Homo sapiens: one gene and its partners. The protein of the gene in region 4 interacts with the protein of the main gene of each other region in a pairwise test. Each region holds a gene or a part of one and is shown on either strand. Other genes may lie near its edges.

Region 1 (7,443 bases), on a different chromosome or scaffold from region 4:
AGTGCAGTGGCACGATCTTGGCTCACTGAAACCTCCGCCTCCCAGGTTCAAGCGATTCTCCTGCCTCAGCCTCCCGAGTAGATGGGACTACAAGCACGCACCACCACACCCAGCTAATTTTTGTATTTTTAGTAGAGATGGGGTTTCACCATGTTGGCCAGGATGGTCTTGATCTCTTGACCTTCTGTTCTGCCCGCCTCGGCCTTCCAAAGTGCTGGGATTATAGGTGTGAGCACCTGGCCAACTTTTATATTTTTACTAGAGATGGGGTTTCACCATGTTGGCCAGGCTGATCTCGAACTCCTGAGCTCAAGTGATCTGCCCACCTCGGCCTCCCAAAGTGCTGAGATTATAGGCATGAGCCACCGTGTCCAGCCTATTTTGTATTATCAACTTTAAGTAAACAGGTATATGATTTTTCTGCCTTTGGTTTTGTAAGTCTAAAAATATTTTCTCATTTAAGTTCTTAAATTTGGGTTATAATAAGAACTAATTAGGACTGGCGTGGTGGCTCACACCTATAATCCCAACACTTTGGGAGGCCGAAGCCGGTGGATCACTTGATGTCAGGAGTTTGAGACCAGCCTGGCCAACATGGTGAAACCCCATCTCTACTAAAAATACAAAAAATTAGCCAGACGTGGTAGCGCACTCCTGTAATCCCAGTTACATGGGAGGCTGAGACAGGAAAATCACTTGAACCCAGGAGATGGAGGTTGCAGTGAGCCGAGATCATGCCATTGCACTCCAGCCTGGGCGACAGAGCAAGACTTAGTCTCCACAAAAAAAAATAAAATAAAATAAAATTAAAAAAGAAAGAAAAATAACTAATTAGGCCAGGCACGGTGGCTCATGCCTGTAATCCCAGCAGTTTGGGAGGCCAAGACAGGTGGGTCACTTGAGGTCTGGAGTTCAAGACTAGCCTGGCCAACATGGTGAAACCGTGTGTGGTGGCACACACCTGTAATCGCAACTACTCAGGAGGGTGAGGCGGAGAATCACTTGAACCCAGGAGGCAGAGGTTGCAGTGAGCCGAGATCACACCACTGTGCTCCAGCCTGGGTGACAGAGCAAGACTCCATCTCAAAAAAAAGAAAAAAAAAAAAAAGAACTAATTTAATTACATTTGTTGTAGTTTACTATAAAAGCAGCACTGGTGCAATGACTCATGCCTGTAATCCCAGCACTTTGGGAGGCTGAGGTAAGAGTTGCTCGAGTCCAGGAGTTGAAGACCAGCCTTGAGCAACATAGTGAGAACACGTCTCGACAAAAAATTTTAAAATTATCCAGGTGTGGTTGTACGTGCCTGTAGTCCCAGCTACTTGAGAGGCTGAGCTGAGAGGATCTCTTGAGCCGGGGAGGTCAAGTCTCCTGTGAGCAGTGATCATCGTGCCGCTGCACTCCAGCCTTGGCACCAGAGTAAGACCCTGTCTCAAAAGCAAAATAAAATTAAAATACTAAAATAAAAATAGCAGTATCAATGATGACAAACTGGGATGTCAGAATTATACAATAACAAATATAAATAATAATATGATAATAGCCAAAGCTTGTGATTACCTTTTAGTTTAAGGTTTTCATTAGCCTTCTTTTCTCCTAAAATTACTTTTCAGTCATTTTACCTTCTGTGTCCTTGCATGTAAATGTGTGTTTTAAAACTCAATTTAGTGTTGCATATTGGGTAAGCCTAAAAGCAATTCCTTTATTTACTTGAGTAAATGGAAATTTAGCTTGATATTTGAAATAGGTTAGCCTGAGAAATAAAATAAATATCAGTAGAGTGACAGTTATACAAGTTAACTGTAGCAAATAAGTTTAATGCTCTAAACTGTTTCTTTTATTCAGCATTATTTGTAATGTACTAAGGTTATAGATACTAAATTATATTTCATAAATTGAACTCATAAATCAGTCCAATTAAACCAAGTGTTTTAATAGCCTGATCCTATCAAAGATAAACATAAAACTTAAATCCCTTTACTCTTTTGTCTTCCATCCCTAATCCTTGATCAATCCAATCATTCATTTTGTCTCTTCTTACACTCAGCCTGTAGAAAGAAAAAGACTGCATAACACTGAAGAAGTGTGGTTACAAAGTTACGACTTCCTGGCTGGGCGCAGTAGCTCACGCCTGTAATCCCAGCACTTTGGGAGGCTGAGGCAGGCGGATCACGAGGTCAGGAGATTGAGACCATCCTGGCTAACAGGGTGAAACCCCGTCTCTACTAAAAATACAAAAAATTAGCTGGGTGTGGTGGCGGGTGCCTGTGGTCCCAGCTACTTGGGAGGCTGAGGCAAGAGAATAGCGTGAACCGGGGAGGCGGAGCTTGCAGTGAGCCGAGATCATGCCACTGCACTCCAGCCTGGGTGACAGAGCGAGACTCTGTCTCAAAAAAGAAAACAACAAAACAAAACAAAAAAAAACAAAGTTATGACTTCTAGCCTAATCTGAGCTCTCAATAATTTTCAGCAATTCTTTGTGCATGTCTATGCATTCTGTGCTTCTTGCATTCTCTATTCATCCTCTGAAAATGCCTTGCCTTCTACCTTACAAAAAAAACAGGCAATCACAAGTGAACTCCAGCTTCCCTCTCTTCAGGTCCAATCCTGCCTTCTTTCCATCTCATCCCAGAAGTGGTACTCTGCATGTTGCAAACACTCTATCTGTAGTCTGGATTCCAAACTCCCCAAATCTGGAACGTCACTTTGTCAGTTATTTCATCGATATCTCATGTCATGGGCCTCCCTCTTCAGTGCTTATAAACATTCTAAGCCCCATCCCAAACGCCCTTCTTTGGGCATGCATCCCTCACTAGTCCTGTGTTTCCCCTTCCCTGGATGGCCACATTTCTTCTAGAATAACCTATATCTGCCATCTTTATTGTTTTTCTTTCTTTTTTTTTTTTAACATTTAGGTTCGGGGGTACATGTGAAGGTTTGTTACACAGGTAAACTGGTGTCACGGTGGGGGGTTTGTTGTATAGATTACTTGACTAGCTCAAGGGTAGAGCATTTGACACCTTTATTGTTATTGTTCGTTTGTTCTGCAACCCAATTCAGCTGCCATTACACCACTAATTGAAACCACCCTTGTTAAAATCACTGGTGACTTCATGAATGTCAAATCCAGTATTTACATTTTTTTCTGCATTTATGCTGAAATATAAAGTATATAGTAATGTGCATTAAACTTATATGTGCAATTTAACAAATAGCTATCAAGTGAACACTCACATTATTACCACTTAGATCAAGAAATAGAACATTTTCTTGGCCCAGATGCAGCCCGCACCACAGCTGCATTCCTCACCCAGGGGGAGTAATCACTATTGGGTGGCAGTGCTGATTATTTACTTGCTTTGCTTTACGGTCATGTTTTGTTTTGTCATCACCAGGGTCAAGGTAATGAACATATTCACCACCCCAAAGGTTTCCTTCTGCCTCTTATATCCTACTCACCACTCCCTACCCCAGCCCCAACCAAACAACCACTGATCTGCTTTCTGTCACTACAGATTAGCCCATATTTTCTAGAGTATTATATTAACAAAATCATATGGTCTTTTCTTTTGGTCTGGCTTCTTTCACTCAGCACAATTATTTGAAGATTCATTTATGCTGTAGCATATATCAATAATTCATCAGTTTTTATTGCTGAGAAGTGTAGCATTGTGTGGATATATCACAATTTCTTTATCCTTCACCAGTTGATGGACATTAGGGTTGTTTCCAGTGTGGGACTATTACAAATAAAGCTATTGTGAACGTTTGAAAATATGTCTTTGGATATACACATTCATTTCTCTTGAGTAAATACCGGTAAAAACATTTAGAAGCTGAGTAAGGCCTGCAGTCTAGTTCACAGTAGTGTACCAATGTCAGTTTCCTGGTTTGGATGTTGAGCTGTAGTCATGTAAGATGTTACCACTGGGGCAAAGTGTACAAAGGGTGCACTGGACTCTTAACATTTTTGCAACTTCCTGTGAATCTATACTTTTTCAAAGTTAAACATTTTTTTAAAAAGTAATATGTCTTAATTATATAAAATTGAGAAAATGCAGATAAGCAAATAAGAAAAAAATTACCCATATTCACATCCTCTTGAGAGAATTACTAATAATATTTTTATATATATCCTTCCAATGTTTTTGACAGATAGATTTTGATTTTTGTTGTGGCTGTTTTTACCCATAGGATTATGTTTTGTAACAGGGACAGCAGATATATTTATTCTTCTTACCTATTAATATTGTAGTATTATGGAGACAGTTTATTTTATTTTATAATTATGTATTCATTGAAATTAAAGTATTTGCTTCTAATTTATTTTCTTTCTTTTTGTATCCTTTAGTTGATGACAGTGCAATTTTGGATTGCCAGTTCAGTGAGTTTTATCATACGCCTCCACCTGGTTTTGAAAAAATATTATTTGAACAGCAAATCTTCTGAATGTATTTGTTTTTAAAACTTGTATTTCTGCACTGTTAAAAAATGTTCATCATTTAATAAAACTTTACCTGGCCTATAGATGAAAATATATTCTTAAAAATATGCTTGTTGATGCTGTCTAAGGAACCAATGTATTCAGTATACCACCCTGAAGTTGTGATTTAAAATACTTTATGTTTTGTGAAATGAAAATAAGCATTTGGGCAGTTTATTTAATTCTTATTTAAATAAATAGAATTATGGGTTTAATTAACAGTATAACATGACTATATATACATATATATTTAAAGGGAATTCTTTCTTACATAATATATTTGTTTTGATAGAGATGTAGAGTTGGGTGGGTGTTTTTGTCACTCTGAAGTTTAGACCTCATTAAATATTTGACATCTACAGTTGGATAATTTTGCCGCTTAGTGTCCTTTTTTATATACAATATAACAAAGTGAGAGAAATTTATATTACTGGCAATTTCATTTTTGGCAGTCTATTTCTGTATCATGTACCGCTTTTCTTAAAACTTAAATTGCTTATTTTGTTGTGTAATGTCATTGCTTTTGATTTGCTTTGTGAAAGGAGATAAACGTTTCAGTAATTGTCAGAGCATTTTGTTGCCTCAGGCTGTGTTACCTCAATTTCAGAGTAAGTAGTGGTTGATTAGTAATGTAGTATACACTGGCAGACATCTAGAATAGTATGATGCTTTACATTTAAATGAGGTTATTCTTTTAAGGACTTTTATTTGTATGTTTTCTGTAAGGAATAATAAAATAATTGTAATTAAGGAATATACCATACTATATTAAACACATTCTTCCTATTTTGTTAGTTATACACTAAATTCACATCACCCGTGATTATTTCAGTTCAGAGATAAGTGAATCCTCTTCATGACCCTGAGTCTTTGCCTGGTTCTTAAGAATCACTGTCCTTTAGTTAACGCCCTGTGACCTGAACCAATCACTCTATACATCTTTAGATACGTTGTCTGTTTTCAAATGAGCATGGCAAGGATGCATACATTTCCCTCCTTTATCAACTAGAAACAGTACATTGTTCAGGAAAACATGAGTGTTAGAATTAGAAAGAGATCCAAATTGTAGTTTTGCTGCTCATCCTATTTTCTCCTCTCCAAGTCTCAGATTCCCATTTATAAAAGGAGCAATCATACTGACATAAGATTCTATGATTAAATAAGGTAATACATATATAACACCTTAATAATCATAGGCACTTGCGCCAGGCGCGGTGGCTCACACCTGTAATCCCAGCACTTTGGGAGGCTGAGGCGGGAGGATCACAAGGTCAGGAGATCGAGACCATCGTGGCTAACATGGTGAAACCCTGGCTCTACTAAAAAAATACAAAAAAAATTAGCCAGGTGTGGTGGCGGGCGCCTGTAGTTCTAGCTACTCTGGAGGCTGAGGCAGGAGAATGGCTTGAACCCGGGAGACGGCGCTTGCAGTGAGCCGAGATTGCCCCACTGCACTCCAGCCTAGGCAACAGAGTGAGACTCTGTCTCAAAAAAAATTAAAATAAAATAAAATAAAAATCATAGGCACTTAGTAAGTGTAGTTTCCTGGATGGTAAAGTATCAGGGAAAGTGGTTTTCTTTCTTTTTTTTTTTTTCTCGTTTTTTTTTTGAGACAGAGTCTCACCTTGTCACCCAGGCTAGAGTGCAGTGGCACGATCTTGGCTCACTGCAACCTCTGCTTCCCAGGTTTAAGCGATTCTCTTGCCTCAGCCTCCCGAGTAGGTGGGACTACAGGTGCCCGCCACCACGCCCGTGTAATTTTTGTATTTTTAGTAGAGATGGGGTTTCACCATGTTGTCCAGGCTGGTCTCAAACTCCTGACCTCATGATCCACCTCCCTCAGCCTCCCAAAGTGCTGGAATTATAGGCGTAAGCCACCACACCCAGCCAGAAAGTGGTTCTCATGATGCTTCTCAGACCGGCAACATCAGCATCACTGGAACTTGTTAAAAATGGACACTCTCAGAACCCACACCAGACCCACCAAATCAGTTTGAGAACTGCCATTCAGTAGAGAATTATTTGCCTACTGTAAATTTTCTAAGGATTTATGATGGGCTATTTTTGACCCATAGGCTCAGAGAATCCTGCAAAATCCTTTTTTATTGTTTATTCTGCAGACAAAAATGTGACAATATGCTTTGAAAACATAGATATACTTGAGTAACATTTATTTACATAAATCCCAAATTCTACCTCTGAAGGTATATGAAATTTAACTATGTATGTATTATGCATTTTGTCTGGCTTTCTATCATAATTTTAATTTGTAAAGAATGTGCTTACTTGGGAAAGCAAATTAAAGTGACTACTGTTTGCTATCGTTATGATGTTATCTACCTCTTTTTAAAATTCTTTTAAAATTTAATTTAATTTTATTTTATTTTGAGACAGTCTCGCTCTATCACCAGGCTGGAGTGTAATGGCACAATCTCAGCTCACTGCAACCTCCACCTCCCGGGTTCAAGCAATTCTTCTGCCTCAGCCTCCCAAGTAGCTGGGACTACAGGCGCACGCCAACACGCCTGGCTAATTTTCACACTTTTAGTAGAGACGGGGTTTCACCATGTTGGCCAGAATGGTCTCGATCTCTTGACTTCGTGATCCGCCAGCCTCGGCCCCCCAGAGTGCTGGGATTACAAGCATGAGCCACTGTGCCCGGCCTCTACCTCTCATTTTTTTTTAAGCCAACCTTTTGAAAAATCATATTCTTTTCTGCCTCTAATTATACAACAGAGACATAGTACTAAAAATGATACTGAAGTTTATGTCCATGACAACAGTTTGGTGAAATCTAGGTGTGTTTTTATCTCCATACATATCAAATTTATCTTAAGAAAATTACATTGAGCTGGCCGTCCTTCCACAACCCATAACCTTAGTCTAATCATGAGAAATCAGACAAATTCAGAGGGGCATCCTATGAAACACTTAATGATGCTACTCAAAACTTTCAGGGT
Region 2 (8,339 bases), on a different chromosome or scaffold from region 4:
TTGATGGTGAAGAAAGAGAGGGATCAGGCTGAGCACAGTAGCTCACTCCTGTAATCCCAGCACTTTGGGAGGCCGAGGCGGGCAGATCACTTGAGCTCAGGAGTTGGAGACCTGCCTGGGCAATATGGTGAAACCCTGTATCTACTAAAAATACAATAATTACCCAGACATGGTGGTGCATGCCTATCGTCCCAGTTACTCGGGAGGCTGAGGCACGAGAATCGCTTGAACCAGGGAGGTGGAGGTTGCAGTGAGCCGAGATTGCGCCCCTGTACTCTAGCCTGGGTGACACAGCAAGATTCTGTCTTGGAAAAAAAAAGAGAGAGAGAGAGGAATCCCTTTCTGCTGTTGGGCTTTTATCACTCTAATCGTTGCTATTGTTATTCATCTCCCAAGAGTAAATGGGAAATCTACTTCTCACTCAGTCCATCCTCTTGTACCTGCAGGGAGACTCTCCAATGTTGCTGACTGTTTTGAATTAGCACATTTCTTTGCAGTCCCCCATATCCACCAGGATACATTCCAAGGCCCCAGTGGATGCCGGAAACCGTGCATAGTACCATACCCTACATATGCACCAATTACTTTTTTCTCCTTCACAATTTCACAGATAGAACATTTGTTCTTACCGTAGATCTTCGCAACTTCAGTAGAGAGTTTTTTCTTTTTTTTTTTATTAAGTGGAGAGTTAGTTACTTACTTAGAAATGTTTCTTTTCTTATTAGGTTTTTTTTTTGTTTTGTTTTGTTTGTTTGTTTGTTTGTTTTGAGACAGAGTCTCGTTCTGTCTCCCAGGCTGGAGTACAGTGGTGTGATCTCGGCTCACTGCAACCTCTGTCTCCTGGGTTCAAGCGATTCTCCTGCCTTAGCCTCCTGAGTAGCTGGGACTACAGGTGCCCGCCACCACGCCTGGCTAATTTTTGTATTTTTAGTAGAGACAGCGTTTTACCATATTGGCCAGGCTGGTCTTGAACTCCTGACCTTGTGATCAGCCCACCTCGGCCTCCCAAAGTGTTGGGATGACAGGTGAGAGCCACTGTGCCCAGCCCTTATTAAGTCTTTAAGTGGGAAGCTTTTCTTTTCACTTTTATTTTATTTTATTGAAATATTATAACAAATCATTGAAGAAGATAGTGTTATCATTCCATTCTGATAAAACCAATTAACTTATCCAAGCATGTGCATGCTGTACACAGAAGATCCACCGTTAAAAAGTCCCTATTTTTACTTACTTTTCTTAGATTCAGCGGATACATGTGCAGGTTTCTTATATGAGTATATTATGTAATGCTGAGGCTTGCACTTTTAATGATCCAGTCACCCAACTAGTGAGCATAGTACCAAATACATAGTTTTTCAAGTCTTGCCCCCCTCCTTCTCTCCTCCTTTTTGGAGTCCCCAGTTACTGTTGTTCCCTTCTTTGTGTTCACATGTACCCAGTGTTTAGCTCCCACTTATAAGTGAGAACATGGTTTTCTGCTTCTGTGTTAATTTGCTTAGGATAAAGCCTTCCACCTGCATCCATGTTACTGCAAAAATCTTGTGCCTTTTCACAGCTGTATAGTATTCCATGGTGTATATGTACTACATTTTCTTAATCCAATCCACTACTGTTGGGCACCTGGGTTGATTCCATATCTTTGCTATTGTGAAGTGCTCCAATGGACATACAAGTGCATGTGTCTTTTTGGTAGAATTATTTATTTTCCTTTGGATATATACCCAGGAATGGGATTGCTGGGCTGAATGGTAATTCTATTTGTAGTTCTTTGAAAAATCTCCAAACTGCTTTCCACAGTGGCTGAACTAATTTACACTCCCACCAACAGTGTGTAAACCTTCCTCTTTGCTCCACAATCTCACCAGCGTCTGTGAATTTCTGACTTTTTAGTAATAGCCATTCTGACTGGTGTGAGATGGTAATGGTATCTCATTGTGAAATTCCCTATATTTTTATATGATTCTCAGGGGGTATCATGGGTCTGAATACTGACTCATGCCCTGGGCATGACTTCCACATTGCAGAATTGAGAAGTTGACCCAGAAATGCATTTCAGGCTGAGCAGACAATTATCAGAGGAGCTGGCTAGACCACAGCTGTGGTCAGATGTGTCATAGGGACCATGGCCTTTCTGTAGACTCATGGTCAGAGGTGGAGAGGAGCTGTGAACCTTCTTGTGAAAAAAGTCAAGGTGAAAGCTGCCCCGTGGTGATGGGCGCTGGGCCTCACCTACCACATACTGTGCATCTCCTGGCCTGCTGGGCTCAGTCCCCACCCCACTGCTTGGCACTCGACTGGCAGAATCTGAGTGATGCCTTCTGCACTCCCTGCCCTGCTCTGCCACTGGCTGTGTCTGAGCCAGAGGATCAGTGCTCAGCAGCAGACTCTCCCAAAACCCATCATCTGGGCTGAACCCAGTTCATGAATCCAAATGAAAAGCCGGTGACCATCTGTCACTGGGGAGATTCTGAGGCTGTTGAATACCAGCTGTACTTTGAAGGAAGCCTTTCTGCCATGGAGAGACCAAAACCCCCTGAATGGATTAACAAAGTTGAATTCCACATCCTACTCATGACCTTCCGCACAGCAGGGCTATACAGCTGCTTCTATCTGGCTGGGGAGCTCTGGTCGGAGCCCAGTGACTCTGGATCTGGTGGTAACAGGAGGGAAGATCCAGCCGCACACAGTGCAGATATGGGAATGTCCAGGCGGAGTTCCCCATTGGTCCTGTGACCACAACCCACAGAGGGACATACCGATGTTTTGGCTCCTATAACAACCATGTGTGGTCTTTCCCCAGTGAACTGGCAAAGCTCCTGATCATAGGTGACATTGAGAACACCAGCAGACCCCACCTCTTCTGGCTCTTGGGACACCTACCTTTTAACCAGAGACGGGACTCCAGAAAGACTGTGCCCTCTGAGACCACACTGCCCAGAATCTCCTTCAGATGGGCCTAGCTTTCCTTGTCCTGGTGACTCTGGTGTGATTCCTAGTTGAAGACTGGCTCAGCAGGAAGAGGACTAGAGGGCGAGCCAACAGAGCTTCCACTTGGGATTGCGGCAGAAGGTTGAGAACACAAAGACCCCTTGAAGAATGACCAAGAAACGCAGTGGCCATGGGTGGAACTGAAAGCCGATCTTGAGCCTGGGCATTGGGAGCTCTGTGTTGGGAGAAGGGAGTCATTGTAGGAAAAAGGGACAGTGGTATTCCATTTGTCAAAGCATCCTGGAGGAGACAGGAGGTGGGAGAAACAAGCTAAATTTCTTTGGGAGGCAAAAAAAAAGAAAAAAGTTGTTTTAAAAACTCAGCTTAAGTATCCCTTCTTTGGAGAAGAAAGGTCCTTTTCTCCTACAATGTGGAATATATGTGTATATATATACACACACACACACACACACACACGCATATATATACACACATAAATAAATACAAATTATTTGTGTGTATATAAATATATATATGTATGTATTTATGTGTATTTACATAAATAAAAGCATGGTCCTTACCAAACACAATCATCTACTGACCCATCTGTATCTTTCACTAGGATTACGAGGGCAGGGATTTGGTCTTTTACCTCTATAACTGTGGCATCTACGCATTGTGTGGCATGTAACAGATTTCTAACAAGTATTTGCCTTTTGGAGGAAAAGGGAGCTGTTGCTGTTTTTAAACTTTGGCCCAGGACAGGTGGTCTTTATTATTCAGAACCTAAGAATTAAAAAACCCATAATTTATCAAAAACAAACTTTTGAAGAAACACTAGAGTAAAACATTTGTGTGTGTGTGTGTGAGTGAAATATGCAGTTAGTATTGTTATAAACAAAGTCCAGGACTCAACGAAAGGAATAAAGTAAGAATAGAATTGAAACATGATGCATGTTGTAATTATTCCCTAAACTACAGTAACATGATGTTAATTTTTTTTTTTTTTTTTTTTTTGAGACGGAGTCCCGCTCTTTAGCCTAGGCCGGATTGCAGTGGCGCAATCTCGGCTCACTGCAAGCTCCGCCTCCCAGGTTCACGCCATTCTCCTGCCTCAGCCTCCCGAGTAGCTGGGACTACAGGCGCCCGCCACTGCGCCCGGCTAATTTTTTGTATTTTTAGTAGAGACGGGGTTTCACCGTGTTAGCCAAGATGGTCTCGATCTCCTGACCTTGTGATCCGCCCGCCTCGGCCTCCCAAAGCGCTGGGATTACAGGCGTGAGCCACCGCGCCCAGCCACATGATGTTAATATTTTCCTCAAAATAAACTCAGAATTTAACATAGTGTTCTTCCAGACGAGTGTGAAGGAAGGCAGGTGTTTTCCCAATGCTGTTCTCCTTGGGAGCTGTCAGCTTCAGTGCAGTATTTCACAGCTAGACTGTGAACAAACGTTAATTCCAATTGGCTCAATATACATTCAACAGTAAAATACCAGAAGTGAGTGGTCTCTGTTGTTCTCCAAAATGTATGATCTGGAACAGACTTTTATCGTGAAAGTGTTCATAGTTTGCACACATCACTCCCAGCTGGAAGTTGTTGTCCAGTTTAACAGTTATATAATATAATCTTTTATGTGAGAATTTTGAATAGCACAACAGAGACAAGAAAACAGACTAACTTCTCCTTGGTATGACCACATCTTGGCAAAAAGTGAAAGTCCTATTTAAAATGTAAAGGAAATCCTATTTGGTGAACCCTGTAATAGGTGGGGGCTAAAAGGGAAATCTAGGTTGCTGGATTTGTCACTAGGGTTTCCTCTAGTAATAGCCAGAGGGTTCCAGTTAGTGTCACCTCCCAGTATGAAAATAAATTTTCTTTCAGGCTTTGTTTGTGGAGTGGTAGGTGGAGCATTTTTTTAGGTCCTGATGACCTGGAAGGTGACTCATAATCACCCTGAAACGTATGAGGACCCTAAGGAAACCTCCCCTGGGGGAGACAGAGGGCTGGGGTTAGAGCCATTGCGTTGGGCTCGTCTGGCACCTTCTGGTGTGTGCGGCACCTGGTGGGGGTTCGGCACGGAGCCGCACCCAACACTGACCCGGGCCCCCCCACCCCTGTCCTGAGCCCAGGCGCTTCGCCCTGTCCCACCTAGCTCTGAGCAGCGCCCCCCAGCACCCTGAATGCGTCCGCAGGACCCCGCGCTCTACCCGCAGGCCCCGCACCCCCTAGCTCTGGGCCGCGCCTCACATCCCTCCCAGAGCCGCAACACCCCACCCGGCGGGACGCCCTCGAGCAGCCGCTCGTTGCGGGCCTGAAGCGCAGAGCGCCTATTGGCCAGAGCGGCCGAGGGCGGGAAAAGTGGCCAACGGCTGCCTCGGCCCTCGGGCTGCTGAGGAGATGGCGTCGGGCTCCAAGGCCTCGGTGCCCGCGGACTCATTCCGCACCATCAGCCCGGACAGGCGAGGCGAGAAGTCCGCCTCCGCTGTCTCCGGGGACACGGCGGCCGCGACCACCCTGAAGGGCACCGCGATCCCAGTGCGGTCGGTGGTGGCCTCCCCTCGCCCGGTGAAGGGGAAAGCGGGCCGGGAGACGGCCAGGCTGCGGCTCCAGCGCCTGCCCGCGGCTCAGGCCGAGGACACGGGAGAGGCGGCGGCGGCGGCGGCGGAGGAGCCCCTGCTGCCAGTGCCTGAGGATGAAGAGGAGGCGCAGCCCCTGCCCCCAGTCTGCGTGTCCCGTATGAGGGGGATGTGGCGGGACGAGAAGGTGTCGCTGTATTGCGACGAAGTGCTGCAGGACTGTAAGGTGAGCGGATCCGGGACAGGAAGACTACGGTCGGAAGCTCGTCGGAACCTGGGGACAGGCATCTGGGGCTTCCCTCTTAGGCGGATGGGGATCCACAGGGCACAACGAAAACTTGCGTTTCAAAAAAGTAAATGGAGTCAACATGTATAGAGCGTTCACCTTGTTAGAGGTGCCCGCGTCCTGCCCTAGAGGAGTTAAGGTTCGAGTTTCCGACAAAATTCGTCAGGTAACGGGACAGCCCTGAGAGAGAATTTTCTGAGAGCTCCTAAAAAATGAAGATATATTGGCCTTATCATTGCACAGGCATGAATCTTGGTACCTTTATTTAACAGTTTATGTCCAAACATGAGTAAGATCACTTAGCCTTGACTTTTACACTAGAATGCTAGAAATTACTTTAAGGGTACTTCCCACTCAGCAGTCCACAATGCGGCATGATATATATGTGTGTGTATATATATATATAAATGTGTGTGTGTGTGTGTGTGTGTGTATATATATATATATATATATATATATATATATATATATATATATTTTTTTTTTTTTTTTTTTTTTTTTTTTTTTTTTTTGGAGACGGAGTTTCATTCTTGTTGCCCATGCCGGAATGCAGTGGGGCAATCTCGGCTCACACAACCTCCGCCTCCCGGTGCAAGCAATTCTCCTGCCTCAGCCTCCCGAGTAGCTGGGATTACAGGCATGAGCCACCACGCCTGGCTAATTTTGTATTTTTTTTTAGTACAGATGGGGTTTCTCCAGTTGGTCAGGCTGGACTCGAACTCCCGACCTCAGGTAATCTGCCCGCTTCGGCCTCCCAAAGTGTTGGGATTACAGGCATGAGCCACCGTGCCTGGTGGCATGACTTTCTTTTATAGAAAATACATATCTGATAAAACGGAATAGAGCAAATATTTCATGTTTCTAACCTATTTTTTTAAGTTGTAGCAGAAGAATTTGTGTACCTGCATATTCACTGCAGTGATATTTATAAAAAGTTGAAAATTAAGACATAAACAATAACTAGCTGTCTTATCTATGAATTATTCGAGTGAATAGATCTCTTTTAAGTTTAATTTTTTGTTGGTGATGTTTTCCACTAGATGCGGTTTCAGTTAAAATCTGTAATTTTCCAGGTCATTCATTATTTAAGGCTATATTGGTTCCATTTTAAAATAGAAATCAGTAAAAAAAAAAAAAACCACTTAGTTTAAAATCTATAATTTCATATATTTATATGTAGATCCATTTTTTCTCTTGTTAGGCAGAAGATGCTGATGAAGTTATGGGTAAATACCTATCAGAAAAATTAAAGTTGAAAGACAAATGGCTTGGAGTCTGGAAGACTAATCCCAGTGTATTCTTTGTGAAATATGAAGAAGCTTCTATCCCTTTTGTTGGTATATTGGTTGAGGTAAATAAATTTTATTTGATCTTTGTTCTTTTTGAATCAGTTCTTTTAAAGACTAAAATATGACTTTATTATTTGGAGATTGATACACAAGAGTTGACACATTTTTACTTCTGTTTTAAGTTTCCGAGAAAATTAATAGTGTAAAAAGAAGGTTAGGGGAATATTAGTGCCTGTAAACCATTATCATTAAATGGAATCTAGTAGTATCAGACAATATTTATTAGCCTAGTTTTTGCTCAACTAATGTAAAAATAACAAAAATGCATTTCTTATAAAATTAGTGATTCAGTCTTTAACAAACTTGGGCCTTCTTTTTCTGTCTTTTCCCTTTAATCTTCATTTATCTGAATTAAGAAGTTTAGTTCAGATGAGGAAAAAAAAAGAAATGGATCAGAAAACTACTGGGAAAATTTGAAATTTTTTTCCTTTGAAAAGTACCCTTTTTAGGGAGGCTGAGGCAGGAGAATGGTGTGAACCCAGGAGGCGGAGCTTGCAGTGAGCTGAGATCATGCCACTGCACTCCAGCCTGGGCAACAGAGTGAGACTCCGTCTCAAAAAAAAAAAGTACCCTTCTAGTATAATATCTTCCAAGCCTTTATCTGATAAGATTTTTCTTTTTTTTTTCTTTTGAAACAGAGTTTCGTCCTGTCGCCCAGGCTGGAGTGCAGTGGTGTGATCTCGGCTACTGCAACCTCTGCCTCCCCGGTTCAAGCGATTCTCCTGCCCCAGCCTCCCGAGTAGCTGGGATTACAGGCGCATGCCACCATGCCCAGCTAATTTTTTGTATCTTTGGTAGAGACGGGGTTTAACCCTGTTGGCCAGGCTGGTCTTGAACTCCTAACCTTGTGATCTTTAGCAGAGAAGGGGTTTCACCATGTTGGCCAGACTGGTCTCGAACTCCTGGCCTCGTGATCTGCCTGACTCAGCCTCCCAAAGTGCTGGGATTACAGGCATGAGTCACTGCACCCGGCCCTAATAAGATTTTTCTTTGTTAGGCCTGTAGGCTAAACATTGTGGCATGTTTGATTCTGTTAAAGGTCAATTATCCTTATATAGAAATTAATATTTATAACCACAAATGATACCCTTACCCCAGATAGTTAGTTTAAATCTGTATTTTTGGATACAAGAAAAACTTATGTATGTAACTTGTTGTATTATATACTACTTGAAAACAATTTAAAAATATGTGTTCTG
Region 3 (7,885 bases), on a different chromosome or scaffold from region 4:
TCATGCTCATAAAATGTGCCTGTGGTATTAATTCTAGAAAATCATATGTGGTTAAACTTTATTTTCTAAATAGCTACTGCAAACAAATAAGGATGTTGAGTTTCTCTAAACCAACTCCATGAGTGAGTGTAAAAATGATGTTTTAAAAATCCAGGCCTGATATTTTCTTAAATGATCAATTTTTACAAGTTCCCTCCAAATAGATATAGCTCCAAATTTCCAAGCATTTCTTAAAAATATTTTTTATTTGCAAGTTATTTAATATTGGCTACTAGGTGTATTCAATGTTTAGAATCCTTCATTTTAAGTTACAAAACAGTACTGATTATTAAGGTGTTAAATAAGCCACAGTGTTCTAAATTGCTTATGATATCAATTTATATAAAACTAAGTTCCTGATATGCCTTGTATCACAGTAGGAAATTATTGTAGGACAACTGTTCTTGAAAATAATGAAATAGTCACCCTATTACATTATATACTGTTTCTCAAAGTTCTGACAAGCCTCCTGATTTTCAAATGAGCAAAAGAAGAAAAAATAAGATATTTAATGGGTGTTTTGGGACACGGACAGCCTTGTCTTGTGGTTTGAGCTCATTTAATAATCAACTGGTGATCCTGTGTTAGTTCCTTTTTCAGTTATTATCAAGCATTTAAGGAACAGCTATTTGTAAACTGCCAACATTTTAAAAGTCAGAATGTGGTATTAACACTTGCTATCAACATACAAATAATTCACATAACAAAGATTATCTACTATTGTTTGAATATATTTCACTCTAACAGTGGTCTCTTATAAAGTATCTTGTAGAACAGCATGCAAATATAAAATACATATAATTTAGTTGTGAAAAAATATTACTTTCATTAACATGCCACACATTTTCAGAATTTACACTGGTTTATTTATATCTAGGTATATCCATAATAATCTAAATTTATAATAAATATCTTGTATAATAGACACTCAATGTTTATGAAATTAAATGCTAATGGAAAATACAAAGTCGTTCTATCTTTTTTAAATGTTTGTTTAAAAAAATCTAATCACACATTAAATAACAAAATATATTTAAAATGAGTAATATTTTGTAAATGCAAACTACATAGATGGACAAGATATTAAGCTCCCCTGTTGATAAAACTGTTGATTTTTAGCTCTTCCTTTGGAGCAGTGGTAAACAGTGATACATAATTTATATTTCAAGAACTTCAATGAAACATACTTTTTGGTTATTAAAAATTGATACGACCACAACTGTCCCTAAAGATTTAGTCATATTTAAGGACCTGGAATGAGAAAAATAAGAGACAGATACCTTGGATCTTCGTAAAGCAAACATACGATTAAGGCCTTTGATATTAACCTGATAGAAAAATGTACACTAGGAAGGTGGAAAAGGCTTTTGAAATTGAGTTAAATAAACATAATTGTAGAAGAAAATTCACCTTTTTTCACAGAAAATAATAGCAATATTGGAAACGGTTTTGAAGAAAGTTATTTCTTGACTTATGACACAACTTCAGAGTCAGGATTATACATATTGAAAATAAGCCTTGAAACTCCAGTTTCTGTGTGTGTGTTTCGTTATATGTACAAGGACTAAGCCACAATAAGTGGGTGTTAGTATCTTGATAAGTATGTTTAATATAAACAAGATTGCAAAGTTGTATTAAAAATGTTTGTCAAAACTTTTTAAAAGAATATTATTAATTTCCCAGTCTTCCTGTTCGTCAAAAATCCTGTAAAATCTTATCATGAACATGGGTTAAGTAGTTCATTCTTTGTGAAGTTTATATAATCTTTTGAGTTTTCAAAAGGAAACTTTTCAATATATTAAATTTGTTACTTTGCTATCATCACTAAACCTGTTCAAAACTACTAGGTAGAAAAAGGAAAAAAAATCATTACTTAATGTAGCAGCAATAACAAGATAAATAATTTAGTATCTGTGCATAAACTTCCTTAATACTGAAATTTTTGCAAGGCCAGTGTATTCTGACTGAAAATGTACAGACTGTATGGACTTTGTTTGTTAATAGTATATCTCTTGGCACTTAAATTTTTAATTCTTGTAACCGAAACAAAGCCCTCTAAAAACCCTCTCCCCACTGGGTTTTCAAAAACAGCTTCAAGTGTTGCATTTCCAAATAAGAATAGCTCATAAGAATATCATCAGAACTCTGATAAAGCAACTATTTTAAACTATTTTGTCATTTTTCTGTTTCTAAGCCTTTCACCTAAGTTACATGATAACATTCAGAAGAGGAAAAAAATTATCAGGTACAATACTTGGCAGCTGGACATGTGTCAATTGTTGCCTGTAAATCTAATTACTGAAAATTAGAGCACACCACGGCATGACCGTAGAGACAAAGACACTGCAGCTGAGCTCTGATTAGAAAATTCAACTTTTTATTCCTCCCGACTCCTGAATGAGTGGATGGTATTACATTAACTGTAAAATGTACATCCTGTCCCGGTGCCCAGGCCACCCATTCCAAACGAGGAAAGGTCGTTTGTCAAAACTTGAAGCATTTGAAGGAAAAACACCCTCATCAGTAGTCAAGAAAATTAACGTTAAAGTCTATTATTGGGGGCAAAGTACGTAAAACCACTAATAGCAGTGTATTTACTTCAAATAATAATCATAATAATGTGTTTACAGAGCTGTCTTTAAAAACAAAACAAAACAAACAAACCTCGGCCCTACACTGACTACTTTAAAATCCCCACCGTCACAAAAACATTCCAAAAACTAAGACCAAATCTGGACCCCACTTGATATCAAGGATGTTATTGGATTTGAGGAGTTTGTTCAAAGTACGTCATTTTGAGAAGTTGCATCCACTTAAAGATATAAAATATGGCAACCAACTAGGTTTAAAAACAGTGAAATTTTATGTCCCTGAAAGCTTAAAAGCTGTAAATCTAGAAACCCGGGTCACGTAGGCAACATTATTGACTTGTTTTCCCCACCTCTCTTAATACCAACCTGCAGCGCAGTCCTTCCAAATCCATTTTGTGCATTGACGTTTACATTATTTTGCAACAAACTAGTAAGTTGCTCTAGGTCCCCCCTGGCAGCTGCGGACGCCAACTCGTTCCCCCAAGGCTCGGCCATTCTTTAGGGTCCTGACGATCAGGAAAAGATGAATTAGTCGTTTTTCTTTTTCCCCTTTCCTTTGCTCCTAACCAGGCTGCATGATGGCATCGGAGACTGACAGAAGGACTGGGATGGTTAATCTGGAGTAGAGCTTGGTAGTAAATACTAGTAAGATCTGCCTGCCAAAAGCCCGCCCCTCGATTCACACGTGATTATTCAGCAAAACTGAGCCATTGGAGAGGGGCTCCTCGCCTCGCTTTTTTAGCTTAACCCCTATGAAGAATTCTGACGACTCCACAGAGAGACACACAGACACACATACATTCCTGGTTAATGACTCCGGACGTCAGATGTAGGCAGAGCTGTCACGTACCTACGCTACAGATCTCTGTGAGGAGTGTGTGTGGAGACTCAAGGGACTATAGATCGGGGCAGAAAATACCGCGGAAGGAAAGACATTCAGGGGGAAGAAAAGGCATTCACCCACCCTTGTTCACGGTGGTGACTTGAGCCGTGTGAGGCAGAACTGCAGGGGCAGGTCCTCCAGGGGGCTCGGTTTCCATCCGTCTCGCCGAAGGGATAGTCCTGGGTCCTCCGCTGCTGGGAGAGCGCCGCGGTGGCTGGATGCTGACGTGCTCCGGAGGGTTAAAAGATGATCGCCAAAGGCGAACGGGAGTAGCAGTTCGGTGGCCCTCAAGTTACAGGTCGTAACGATTGCCCAGTGCTCTGGGCTTCTCCAGAAGAGCCTTTGGTCGCGTCCGGGCCAAGCCGTGGGCTAATGCCGCTCAGGAAAGCTCCGGAGCCCGCCCGCCAGGCAGCCGCAGCCCCGCCGAGCCTCAGAGGCCGTGGGAGCCGGGCTCGGCGCGCGTCTCCGGAGGCTGCCGGGCGTGCGGCGGGCCCCCGAGAAGCCCGTCATGCCGGCCCCGCCAGGTCCCGGGACTCCCGGCAGCCCGAGGAAGGAGAGTGATGCGGAAAGCGTCTACGGAGCCCGGACTGCTGGGGCAGCTCGCGGCAGCATTGCGGCTGCACTGGGCAGCCCCCCCGGGAACTTCCCGCCTACGACCGAGCTCGTTCAGGCTTTCTGCTGTAGGCACTCATTGAGCTGCTGCCGCCGCTGTCCTTTCCTTCCTTTCCCGGTTTTGTGGGGGCCTCTGGAGATGGGGAGAGTCCTGGGAAACGTAGGCCAAGTTCTGAGTAGGGAGAGTCGCCGCAGTTCCGGGGCAGCCAGTCCGGTCGCCGTCTCGGCGAGCGCTCAGCAGCCTCGGCGCCCGGTGCCACTTTGCCACCTCTCGCGGTCCCCGGCCTGTGCCCCTTTGCTGCGGACAGGGCAGCCGCCAGCCAGCTGTGCCCTGGAGCAGAGCCTGGCAGCACTGCTTCCTCCTTGGCCGCACCGCTCCCAGTGACAGTTTCTTTTGTAGCTGATCCCCCCCTAGATCGCCGGTCCCTGCTCCTTTCACCCCTACAGGCACTTGCGTGTCGCCCCCTTTTTTGCTTTTTTCCTTCACTCCCTCCCTTGCTGCTTTTTTCGCTGAAACAATTGCTGCTTCTGTTGCCTCTCAGAGAGGGTGCCGGTTTCTTCTCCCTTTTTTCCGACCTCATCAGCTTTTTTTGAAAAGAAAAAAATTGAGCGCTTTTTGAGTTGAAAAACCCGCCCCCATTTTAACGGCAGAGTTTTAAGGAGGCTCGGCAGAGTTGCAGCGCCGCGGGAGCGGGAAGGCCGGGCGCCGCCCACGCCCCGCCCTCCGCCCTGCTGGCGCTCGCGCTCGCAGTCTCGCACGCTCCGCCCGCCCGGTCCCGCGCCCTCATTCCCGCCTCCCGCTCTCCACCTCCTCCCGTCAAGTCTCTCGCGCCGGCTCCCTCCTGCCGGCTAGGCGGCCTGTCCCCAGCTGGAGCGGGGTTCGGCCCCGCGAAGTCCGGCCTGCCCTTCTGCTGGCGGGCTTGAGTCTGTGACGCGAACCCCCAGCTGCCCCAATTCCTACGGGGGCGAGGACAGGGGTTTGTTATTTAAGACGGTTGTGGAGGGCCGCAGGGTCTTTGAGGCTCCGCAGCGTACGCTGCGGGAAGGCGGACAGCGAGCTGGCATAAAGGGAGTCGTTCCTCAGCGCTAGCGGGGCAGGTCGGCCCGCCTCTGTGCTCCCCCGCCAGGCTCGCAAAGTTCGGGCGGCCAGGCTGCGGCTGCTGCTGCCTCCTCTAGGCGCGCGCGCTCTGTAAACTCGGCGTCCTTCGCTGAGCCCTGGCCTCGGCCTCGCACCTGCCAGATCCATGCCCGACGGCGCGGTGGGCAGGGGTGGCCGCGGGGGTGGAGGGAAAAATCCGGACTGCCACTAAGCACAGTGCTCACAAAAAGCAAGTCTTGTGTAGACTGAATTTTATGAAAACTTAAGACATGGCATATGTAAGAACGAACTCTGAAGCCTTAATTAATCAAGGACTGGAAACTGCGAAATAGTCCTATTATTAGAGAAAAAGGAGAAAAGCAATTAAATTTAAAGCAAAATTTAAAATAAGTCGTGTGAAGTGTTTTCTAACAAAGCCATTTCTTGGTTGCCGAAGTTCTCTCACTACTTAGAAGTGGCTTGGATTTTGGGGATGTGGGGTTGGGGAGGGTGTCTAGAATGGTCTCTCTCCTAATCCTTTATTTAATCATCCGACACCAATTTCCAGTACTTTTAACTTCCTCTTTTAGCTATGTGAGATTAATTAACTATTGCTTTCTGTATTTTTATACTCTTAAAAATATCCAACACGGTTGCATGATGCACCCAGTGGTCAAAATGAAACCAAGCAAAAAATGACAAGTCTAATTAGAACCGGCCTTTGGCAAGCGGATCCTCAAGCAGTATCTGTACCCTTCTTGAAGTACACTGGGAGTATTAGCAACAAAACACACCAGAAATATCTGGGTAATCATCCAGCAAGAGATTGGTAGGTAGAGGGAAAGTTGAAACTGGGAAGAATCTGGCAGTGTTTTCTTTAATGTAATTGTTGAGAAAAAAACTAGAGTTCTTTTCTTAGGTAACTAAACTTGAATTGTGAATCAAATGAGAACTACAAAACAAGAAATTAACTCTCTTTTTCTTACATATATGTAGACGTTTCAAATAGAAACATTTAAGATTCCATTTATACCAGTAAGAAATAAATAATAATTTACTTTTGATTATTCTGGGAACTGTGTAATCTTTTCATACAGCCAGAGGGTGTGAGGACATATTAGCACTGTTGGCTGATAAAAGAGAACTGGTATTAGTCCAATTTATGAGGATTGCCTTCTAGCATTTATTATGGTTTCTTGCTTAGAGATAAATTGTAAAGAGGAAGAATCTTAAATTGTATGATTACATAAAGTACGGGTAAACGTACTATAATTTTCATGAAATAAAATGCTTATTGCTGAACAACTAAGGAAAACTTATGATAATTTAAGATGTACACAGAGTTGTATTAAGATTTTTGGAGGCCCTAAGCACTGAAAAGATTTTGATGTTCTACCACCTCTTCCTTATATAGAAATAAAAAGAAAAATAACAGAACCCCAAAATAACAGTAAAAAAGTCCAACAAAGTTCTGATTTTTTTCCCATGATGGCTACTTCAGTGGTTTTGCTGAGATATTAAATTATTTGGCAAAGGTTTTTTTTTTTTTTTTAACATTCTGGTTTTGCTGGTGCCCTGAAGCATATGCTTCATCTGCCTGTTGGGTAAACCAGAATTGGCAGTGCAGAGCTTAGGGTCTTAGTTCAGAAGGCATACATAAGTATTACACAGTAACTCCAATGAAAATCTAGTATTTATTGAGGGCTAGTTCACTACAGCAGATTCAAGGGTATCTCTACCCTCAATAAGCTTATATTCTAACATGGCTTACAAGAAAAATTCATAGTTAAGTTTCTACTATATTGAGAGTGGTGCTTTCCTTTTTAACATCAAAATGATAAGTACATCAAATACTGAAATATAGCCTTTATAGTTAGATATTAAATATTAACAGTCATGGAAACCTTTTGCTCCAGCAGTTCATAATCATTTAAGGAGACATAGAAGTGGCCGGGCGCAGTGGCTCACGCCTATAATCCCAGCATTTTGGGAGGCTGAGGTGGGCAGATCACCTGAGGTCAGGAGTTCGAGACCAGCCTGGCCAACATGGTTAAACCCCAACTCCACTAAAAATACAAAAAAAAATTAGCTGGGCGTGGTGGCTGGCGCCTGTAATCCCAGCTGCTCAGGAGGCTGAGGCAGGAGGATTGCTTGAACCTGGGAGGCAGTGGCGGCCCAGCAGTCTCAAAAAAAAAAAAAAAAAGAGACATAGAATAGAAATGTGATTCAGTCAAATTATTCTGTGCTTTTCCCTCATTGACATAGAATAGAAATGTGATTCAGTCAAATTATTCTGTGCTTTTCCCTCATTGACTCAAGTAGGTACAGTTTCTGAATGATTAACTTTTGGAAATGTGTATGTGGTATTTACCATTTATTTAACTGGTCTCAAAGTTTTCCTTTTTGTTGTATTTATAGATCAACAGAGGTGGAAAACAGACTGGGCACCCCCAGGCAGCCTTTTATGTGACTTTATAATTGTAGCTTCAGCATTTTATTTCTGAGATTCAGTGGTTTTTTTCATATAGGTACTTATTTATGAAAATTTTTTATTATTTTTATTTTATTTTATTTTTGAGACAGGTTCTCACTCTGTTGCCCAGGCTAGAGTGCAGTGGCTTGGTCATGATCATGGCTCACTGAAGCCTTGACTTCCCAGGTCCAAGTGACCCTCCTACCTCA
Region 4 (7,443 bases):
GGGACTACAGGCATATGCTACCATTCCCAGTTAATTTTGTTGTAGACGGGGTCTTGCTGTGTTGCCCAGGTTGCTCTCAAACTCCTGCACTCAAGTGATCCTCCCACTGCAGCCTCCCAAATTGCTGGGATTACAGGCATGAGCCACCATGCCCAATATCAAACTAATATTTCTTTTTTTTTTTTCCTTTTTGTGGAGAACAGCTTCTCACTATATTTTCCAGGCAGGTCTCTTAACTCCTGGGCTCAAGCTATCCTCCTGCCTCTGCCTCCCTAAGAGCTGGGATTACTGGTGTGAGCCACCACACCCGGCTCAAAACTAATATTTCTAAGATATATTCCCAGAGGTGTGGGGCTAAGTGGATTCCATGAACCCCAGGATACAAATGCAGGCTTCTCACTGGAGCCTATACCTCAGAGCCACGCTGGCTGGTCAATCACCACCACGCTCCATTGCCAGGCGGAAATATTTATTTGAAAAATTGAAAACACAGATGCAATGTATTATACAAAGAAAGGTCTTAATACCATAATAAAAGTATTGTTGGAGGGAAACAGAAGCCAGTGGCCACCTGCCCTGGGAAGGTAGGCACTCAGTGAAAAATGAAATTCATTTCAAGGAACTACCCTAATGGAAACCCAGGGGAAAGGTTAAAAACAGAAGAAAAACAAACCCAACCCTATCCCTGCAAACTGAAATGTGAAAGAGTCTGTTATAAGTTTGAGACAACTGCATTATCACCAAGATGTAACCGAACCCCCTCGGTTTGTCCCTATGAGTGGTAATCAGTTTCATTTAGGGCCTTCAAACCTGAGGTAGTTGAGGGTCACCTGAAAGACATGTCTGGAAAAATCTACTCTCAGAATCGAACCCAACAGCATTGAATTGTTTCCTGTTGCTTTGGCTCCTGACAACACCACGGTGTGGTGCTGATCTTGTATTTGGTCTGGACCTGGGAGAGGAAGGAATTTGGCAGCAAACAGCTGGCTGGTTTGCTGCGCCGATGGCTGGCAGGTCCGTGGTGGTGGTTTTCTATGCTACAGGTGGTGCAGTCTCTGGAGGACAAGGATGGCAGAGAGAGGGCAAAGCCAGTTTGCTTGGAAAGCCAATGTTGGAACTGGAGGCTTTCCCTGGCAGGATTTCCAGAGATTTGGAAAGGTGGTAGAAGGTAGCAAGATGCTGACCGGTTATTAAAGACCAGGGTCAAATGGAGCCAGGAGACCCCTCTAGACTAAGGAGCTAAGAGGGAACTTCCAGCTGCAAGCTGAGAACTAGCTCCTGCACAGGGTCGAGGGGCCAAAGCCAACTAATCTGACCGGAGCGACATGTACCTGTGATTCCCGTGTTACCTGGTGGCATAAACCTTGGTGTCTGACTTGGTAGCTGGGACAGTTCCAAGAAAAGTTGCTCTAGACAGTGGTTCTTCCAGCCACTGGGTTAGAGGGACCCGTATTCTGGTGGGATTTTAGGGGTACTGCTATGGACGGCTGCATCAGCAGACAATCTAAACTAGTCTCATTTAAACTCCTTGCTCAGATATAAAATAACCCTGCCAAGATGGCTCTTCTCTTCTATTTCTTTCTCTCTCTCTCTCTTTTTTTTTTTTGAGATGGAGTCTCACTCTGTGACCCAGGCTGGAGTGCAGTGGTGCGATCTTGGCTCACTACAACCTCTGTCCCCCGGGTTCAAGTGATTCTCCTGCCTCAGCCTCCCCAGTAGCTGGGATTATAGGCGCCTGCCACCATGCCCGGCTAATTTTTGTATTTTTAGTAGAGACGGGGTTTCACCATGTTGGCCAGGCTAGTCTTGAACTCCTGACCTCAGGTGATCCACCCGCCCCTGCCTCCCAAAGTGCTGGGATTAAACGTGTGAGACACCATGTCTGGCCTCTTTCTCTTATGTAAACAAACATCTTTTCTCTAGAGGTCTCAGGGCACTGTCTTACAAACTTAAGTAACAGATGCAGCTGTTTTTTAACTTCTTGTCGATCCTAAGCCATGATTTTGTTGCTGTCCCATCTTGTCATGACCCATTTACGCTCACCCGAGACTTGTCACTAGTGATGCTCAGTGACTCATTTAGAAGGCTTGCAGGTTCATTTTTAGCTTTAAGATGTGATTCCCGTTTTAATCCAAGGTGTGTCATTAAATAGCTCTTCATCTTCATTTTTAGAAGAGTCACAATAGGACAATTTGATTTTGTCTAGAGAATGGGGTAGCCATTCTAATCTGAGCTATTACGAAAGTAATTATGTGACATCTGACAGCTACTTCCTCATGTGACACTGAATTAGCCTCTGCTTCTGTTTAAGTGCTTTCTTAACCGTTATGACTCAGGCTAAGTCGATGAAGTTTTTAAACATTTCTGTGGCTTCTTTTTAGAGACAGGATCATTCAGATAATTTTTTGTTTGTTTTTAAAGAGATGGAGTCTCGCTCTGTCACTCAGGCTGGAGTGCAGTGGGAAATCATGGCTCATTGCAGCCTCAAACTCCTGGGCTGGGCTCTGACACAGAATCTTTTTTTTTTTGAGACAGGGTCTCACTCTGTCACCCAGGCCGGAGTGCACTGGCACAATCAGGGCTGACTGCAGCCTCGACTTCCCAAGCTCAAGCAATTCTCCCACCTTAGCTCCCCAACTAGCTGAGACTACAGGCATGCACCATCATGCCCGGCTAATTTTGTTTTTGAATTTTAGTAGAGATGAGGTCTTGCTATGATGCCCAGCCTGGTCTCAAACTCCTGAGCTCAAGCAATCATCCCGTCTTGGCCTCCCAAAGTTCTGGGATTACAGGCATGCGCCACTGTGCCCGGCTGGGCAGAGAATCTTAATTTGATCCATTACACTAGACTGTTTGCCCCATTTGTAATTTTTTTTTTTTTTTGAGACGGAGTTTTGCTCTTGTTGCCCAGGCTGGAGTACAATGGCGTGATCTCAGCTCACTGCAACCTCTGCCTCTGGGGTTCAGGTGATTCTCCTGTCTCAGCCTCCTGAGTAGCTGGGATTACGGGCACCCGTCACTACGCTCGGCTAATTTTTGGTATTTTTAGTAGAGATGGGGGTTTCACCATGTTGGACAGGCTGGTCTTGAACTCCTGACCTCAGGTGATCCTACCACCTCAGCCTCTCAAAGTGCTGGGATTACAGGCGTGAGCCACTGTGCCCGGCCACCCCTTGGTAATTGGGAACATATGAGTTAGAATGGCTGAGATCTAGAAGTGAGGACTAGCCACTTTTGGAAATGTTGACCCGCATCAAGAACACACCGATTGGTTTAGTTGCCACAACTGGGACAGGGAAGCCACGCACCATTCCTTCTGAGCCTTGAATCAAAAAAATACTAAGCAGAAAGCAGCATTCAACATTAAGACTGCCCAATTTCTAGTGCTGATACTTCCTTAGCCCAGTATGGAGGTCACACGTCTGAGTATGGTCATCCGAGGTCCTGGGAGAGAGTTTTTTGAATGTCCCACTTAGAAAATGCACAGAGAGGGAGTTGGGGAGGGGGGTGGGCTAGGGAGATGGGGGTTGGTTCACAGTGATCAAACAGAAGTCTCACAACCCGTCATGTAGCAAAACCTAGCAATATTCTGTTGGAGCAGATCCTGGGAAGTGCTTGATGGCTACCACCAATGAGTTGCTATAGATAAAGAAGGAAGACGCTGTTTTTCCAAGATCAGAAGGTCACTTAAATGCTGGGGTCCATCTAGAAGAGGAAAAGTGCTGTTGGGCTGCCCATCCCTGGCAAGCTGTTCATGTGCCCTCTGTCCTCATCCTGTCCACAGGGCAGCGAGAGCCTGGGGCATGTGGCTGAAAGGAGTTGGAGCCGCTGGCTCTGTCCTTTCTCATTTTCTCTGACCCAAGAGCTCCAAATGATCTCCTTGCTTTGGGATCCAAGTCAGTAACAGTCCAGCACCTTGGCCTTTCTTCTGATTCTTGAAGGCTGATGTAGCCGGGCAGAAAGATGAGCCTTGCTAGAGTCACACCTGAAGTTCTGATTGCTCCAAGCATCTCTTTGTAGGCTGTTGCTGCTTAAGGGAGGTTAGTAATAAATACTAAGGGTAGCAAACCAAGTATAGGGTTCTTCCCTGATGGGAGCAATTGCATCTGATCTTCCGGGTTTGTCAATTGCGTAGAAGGTGGAACGATCTTCCTATTCAAGAGGATGCCAAGGCAGACGTCTGCAGAAAGGAGTTGGGAATCACTCCCACACTCCGTCTCTGGGCCAAGGGAGACGGCCCGCTTGACAGAGACCATTCACGGACAGTTCATTCCGGCAGGGAAGTAGTGTTGTTGATCTCACCAGCTCCATTCAAGCATGTGATCAAGTTTTTGAGCCTCGTCACGGGAACTGGGCTGTGTGAACCCTCTTGTCCCTCTTTCTGTTGTCTTCTCCCTTGTAAAGGCGGACAGAGGCTTTCCGCCGGGATTCAGCTTTAGGAGGGAAAGGCACTCACTCTCCTTCTGCTTTTTGAGGAAAGCTGTCACTCAGCAGCTCCGCCTGACCCTGGAGCATGGACTGGGTGGGCCAGCACTTGGTCAGTGTGGAGGCGGAGATGGAGCACCGAGAGGCCTGGGCAGCACCATCGCTGGAGCTACCACAGTTGGGGGGCCCTGGAGACTCAGCCCCAGGGGTGTGCCCTTTGGGAGAGTTGGCTATGTGAGTGAAACTTAAAAAAAAAAACAAAACCAAAAAACCCAACCAACCACCATAAGAAGCAGTGGAAATCCATGGCACTGCCCAAAGAGGGGGAGAATGGCTTTGGCATTCACAGCCAGGACACTCCTGCCGTCCTTCTGACTGTGCAGATCTCAGGGTAGTGTCCTGGTTTGGAATCCATCAGCCCTCTGATGCTCACAAGTTTGTGCAAATGATGAAACTGAAAAGACTGAGAAGAAAACAGAAAAGAAAAGGCATAAGATCTTCCCTTTCCAAGCTGTCAACAAACAACAAGCAGCTCCTCTATTAAGGATACCCATTGTTGTGGGGGTCAAATAGTCAGCAGGACTGGATGTTGGTCCTCTCTGTTGAGTGGCCCTGCCCCCCACCACCCCTCTTCGTACCTAGGCTTGCTCATGGGCAGCACTGGCCAGCCTGGATGCTAACTAGGGAGGCGGGAAAAGAACAGAGATGACCATGGGTCCAAACAGAAAGGGTGTCGCTATGGAGGGAGTCTTTGGAAGTGTCATGCATGTCCTCGGCACTGGGTAATGGCAGTGGTGTGGCTGCCCCTGGGACTCCAAGGATTTGGCCTGTGGCTGGGGAAATAACACACACGAGATAGGTAACAAGGATTTACACTGACATATGGGGTGTTGGTTTGGCTCTATTCTTTTTCGGTTACCACTTCTTGCAGTGTAGGTGGAGATGCCTCTGTTCCTAAAAGACAATGATAATTTATGTTGCAAAGCACTCATGAATGCATTCATTCACTTAACCAACAAAACCTGCCACCATGGGGGCTCAAAAATACATTATAATTATAACCATGGTGTAATCACATAGTCCCCAAGTTTCGTGTCTAGGAATGACTAGGATCTGTCTATGGTTGGTGCCCAGAGTCAGTCAAGTCCACTAAGAGTGAACAGTCTTGGCTGTGATCAAGTTGACTGCTTTCGACATGCAGACAACAACATATAGACTCGAGGTGATGGATGGCAAGTCTCTGGGCTGGCAGCCTGAATGTGACTCCATGCCACTCCATTTCTCAGCACCTGATCCCTTCTTTTTTTTTTTTTTTTTTTTTTGAGATGGAGTCTCGCTCTGTTGCCCAGGCTGGAGTGCAGTGGCGCGATCTCGGCTCACTGCAAGCTCCGCCTCCCGGGTTCACGCCATTCTCCTGCCTCAGCCTCCTGAGTAGCTGGGACTACAGGCGCCCACCACCACGCCAGGCTAATTTTTTGTATTTTTAGTAGAGACGGGGTTTCACCGTGTTAGCCAGGATGGTCTCGATCTCCTGACCTCGTGATCCGCCCGCCTCGGCCTCCCAAAGTGCTGGGATTATAGGCGTGAGCCACCACGCCCGGCCTAGCACCTGATCCCTTCTGTCTTTTGGCAATTGTTGCCCTTCACTGGCTCTAGATAGACAGAACCTTGTAATTCACTTGTCCCTGTCTGCCAGATCTCGACTGACCACTATTTATTCATTTTTCAACTCTCTGCTGGCCAGAAACTAAATTCCCAGGGAGTTGGCAAGGCTAGCTGGGCCTGGGAGGGAATGGCAGTGAGTGAGTTATGATCAATGTTTAGGTCTTAAAAGGTGACAACAAAAGCTTTCAAATCACCATAACTTCACCCAAAGTTAGGCTTAAAGGTTATTTACAACGGAAGAGAAAACAGGTTCCATGAGGAGAGAAGAGAAGGAAGAAGCCACCGATCTGGTGGGTTCCTTGTTCTGTTCCATTCTAGGGGAAGGCCCTGGCCACACAGCTTCCCCTCCCTGCTGCGGGTTAGTGCCCATCCTTGGAGTCAGCTTACCTTCTTCCCAGCCCTCAGCAACACCAGCAAGCTCGTAGTGCTTTTTCCGAAGCTCTCCCAGTTTTTGACGCTCCTTCTGCAATTCATTTTCTAGCTCTAGCACCCTAACCTGTAAGGGAAATTAAGTGGGATTTTCTCTTAATCATCTCTCAGAGATTTAATTTTTATTTATTTTTTTATAGAGATGGGGTCTTGTTCTGCTGCCCAGGCTGGTAGTGAACTCCTGGCCTCAAGAGATCCTCCTGTCTTGGCCTCCCAAAGTGCTGAGATTACAGGCATGAAACACCATGCCCAGCCTACATCTATCTTATTTTGATTACTCCCTTTCTGCTGCATTGTGAATTCCTCTTCTTCCATATTATTCACCGTTTCCATACTTTATCTGGCCCTCAATTTCAATTCTCTTCTTTGCTCTAATTTTTCCATTCTCCCATTCATTTATCTATCCCAGTAGCTCTTATGCTTTACTCACTGTGATCTTCTACTGGAAGTGAATGATGCTTTACAAATGCCTAAATGGTAGGTGGGCTTATCTTCTGTTCCTCTGAGAAATCACTATCTAAAAACAACTCTAATGTTTAGCCTAACTGTATGGTGAGTACCAATCTAGTTGTAACCCTTCTTCAATCCCAGTTCCCTAGAAACCCAGGTAGGAAGCAAATATGATGGTTCTGATATCTTTCAGGTATTTGTGCAACTTACACTTATTACTGCTACAGGAAAAAGCCTGGAAAATCTTACTATAAAGGAAAGGGTGATCTTGTCTAGCTCTACTTCTCATTAATGTAATTTATTTTATTTCTTAATTCAAGGAATATTTGCTGGCCGGGCATGGTGGCTTATGCCCGTAATCCCAGCACTTTGGGAGGCCAACGTGGGTGGATCACCTGGGGTCAGGAGTTAGAGACTAGCCTGACAAACATGATGAAACCCCGTCTCTACTAAAAATATACAAAATTAGCCAGG

What was found.
Region 1: the proteins of HIP1 (region 4) and SPRYD7 interact in binary tests that used the Homo sapiens proteins (3 or more experiments, as listed by UniProt).
Region 2: the proteins of HIP1 (region 4) and SHCBP1L interact in binary tests that used the Homo sapiens proteins (3 or more experiments, as listed by UniProt).
Region 3: the proteins of HIP1 (region 4) and CDKN2C interact in binary tests that used the Homo sapiens proteins (3 or more experiments, as listed by UniProt).

What each region holds. Positions count from the first base shown.
Region 1 is NC_000013.11:49,912,069-49,919,511, reverse strand, and holds the end of SPRYD7 (SPRY domain-containing protein 7), read left to right. Parts: intron 1-1,290; exon of another isoform or gene 1,291-1,419; intron 1,420-2,047; exon of another isoform or gene 2,048-4,351; coding exon 4,352-4,449; 3' UTR 4,450-6,810; downstream 6,811-7,443.
Region 2 is NC_000001.11:182,950,121-182,958,459, reverse strand, and holds the start of SHCBP1L (testicular spindle-associated protein SHCBP1L), read left to right. Parts: upstream 1-5,293; 5' UTR 5,294-5,326; coding exon 5,327-5,731; intron 5,732-6,470; exon of another isoform or gene 6,471-6,475; coding exon of another isoform or gene 6,476-6,523; intron 6,524-6,992; coding exon 6,993-7,142; intron 7,143-8,339. UniProt on the Homo sapiens protein: Testis-specific spindle-associated factor that plays a role in spermatogenesis. In association with HSPA2, participates in the maintenance of spindle integrity during meiosis in male germ cells.
Region 3 is NC_000001.11:50,965,609-50,973,493, reverse strand, and holds the start of CDKN2C (cyclin-dependent kinase 4 inhibitor C), read right to left. Parts: upstream 3,250-7,885; 5' UTR 3,126-3,249; coding exon 2,997-3,125; intron 1-2,996. UniProt on the Homo sapiens protein: Interacts strongly with CDK6, weakly with CDK4. Inhibits cell growth and proliferation with a correlated dependence on endogenous retinoblastoma protein RB.
Region 4 is NC_000007.14:75,532,846-75,540,288, forward strand, and holds the end of HIP1 (huntingtin-interacting protein 1), read right to left. Parts: intron 6,587-7,443; coding exon 6,478-6,586; intron 5,380-6,477; coding exon 5,327-5,379; 3' UTR 453-5,326; downstream 1-452. UniProt on the Homo sapiens protein: Plays a role in clathrin-mediated endocytosis and trafficking. Involved in regulating AMPA receptor trafficking in the central nervous system in an NMDA-dependent manner. Regulates presynaptic nerve terminal activity.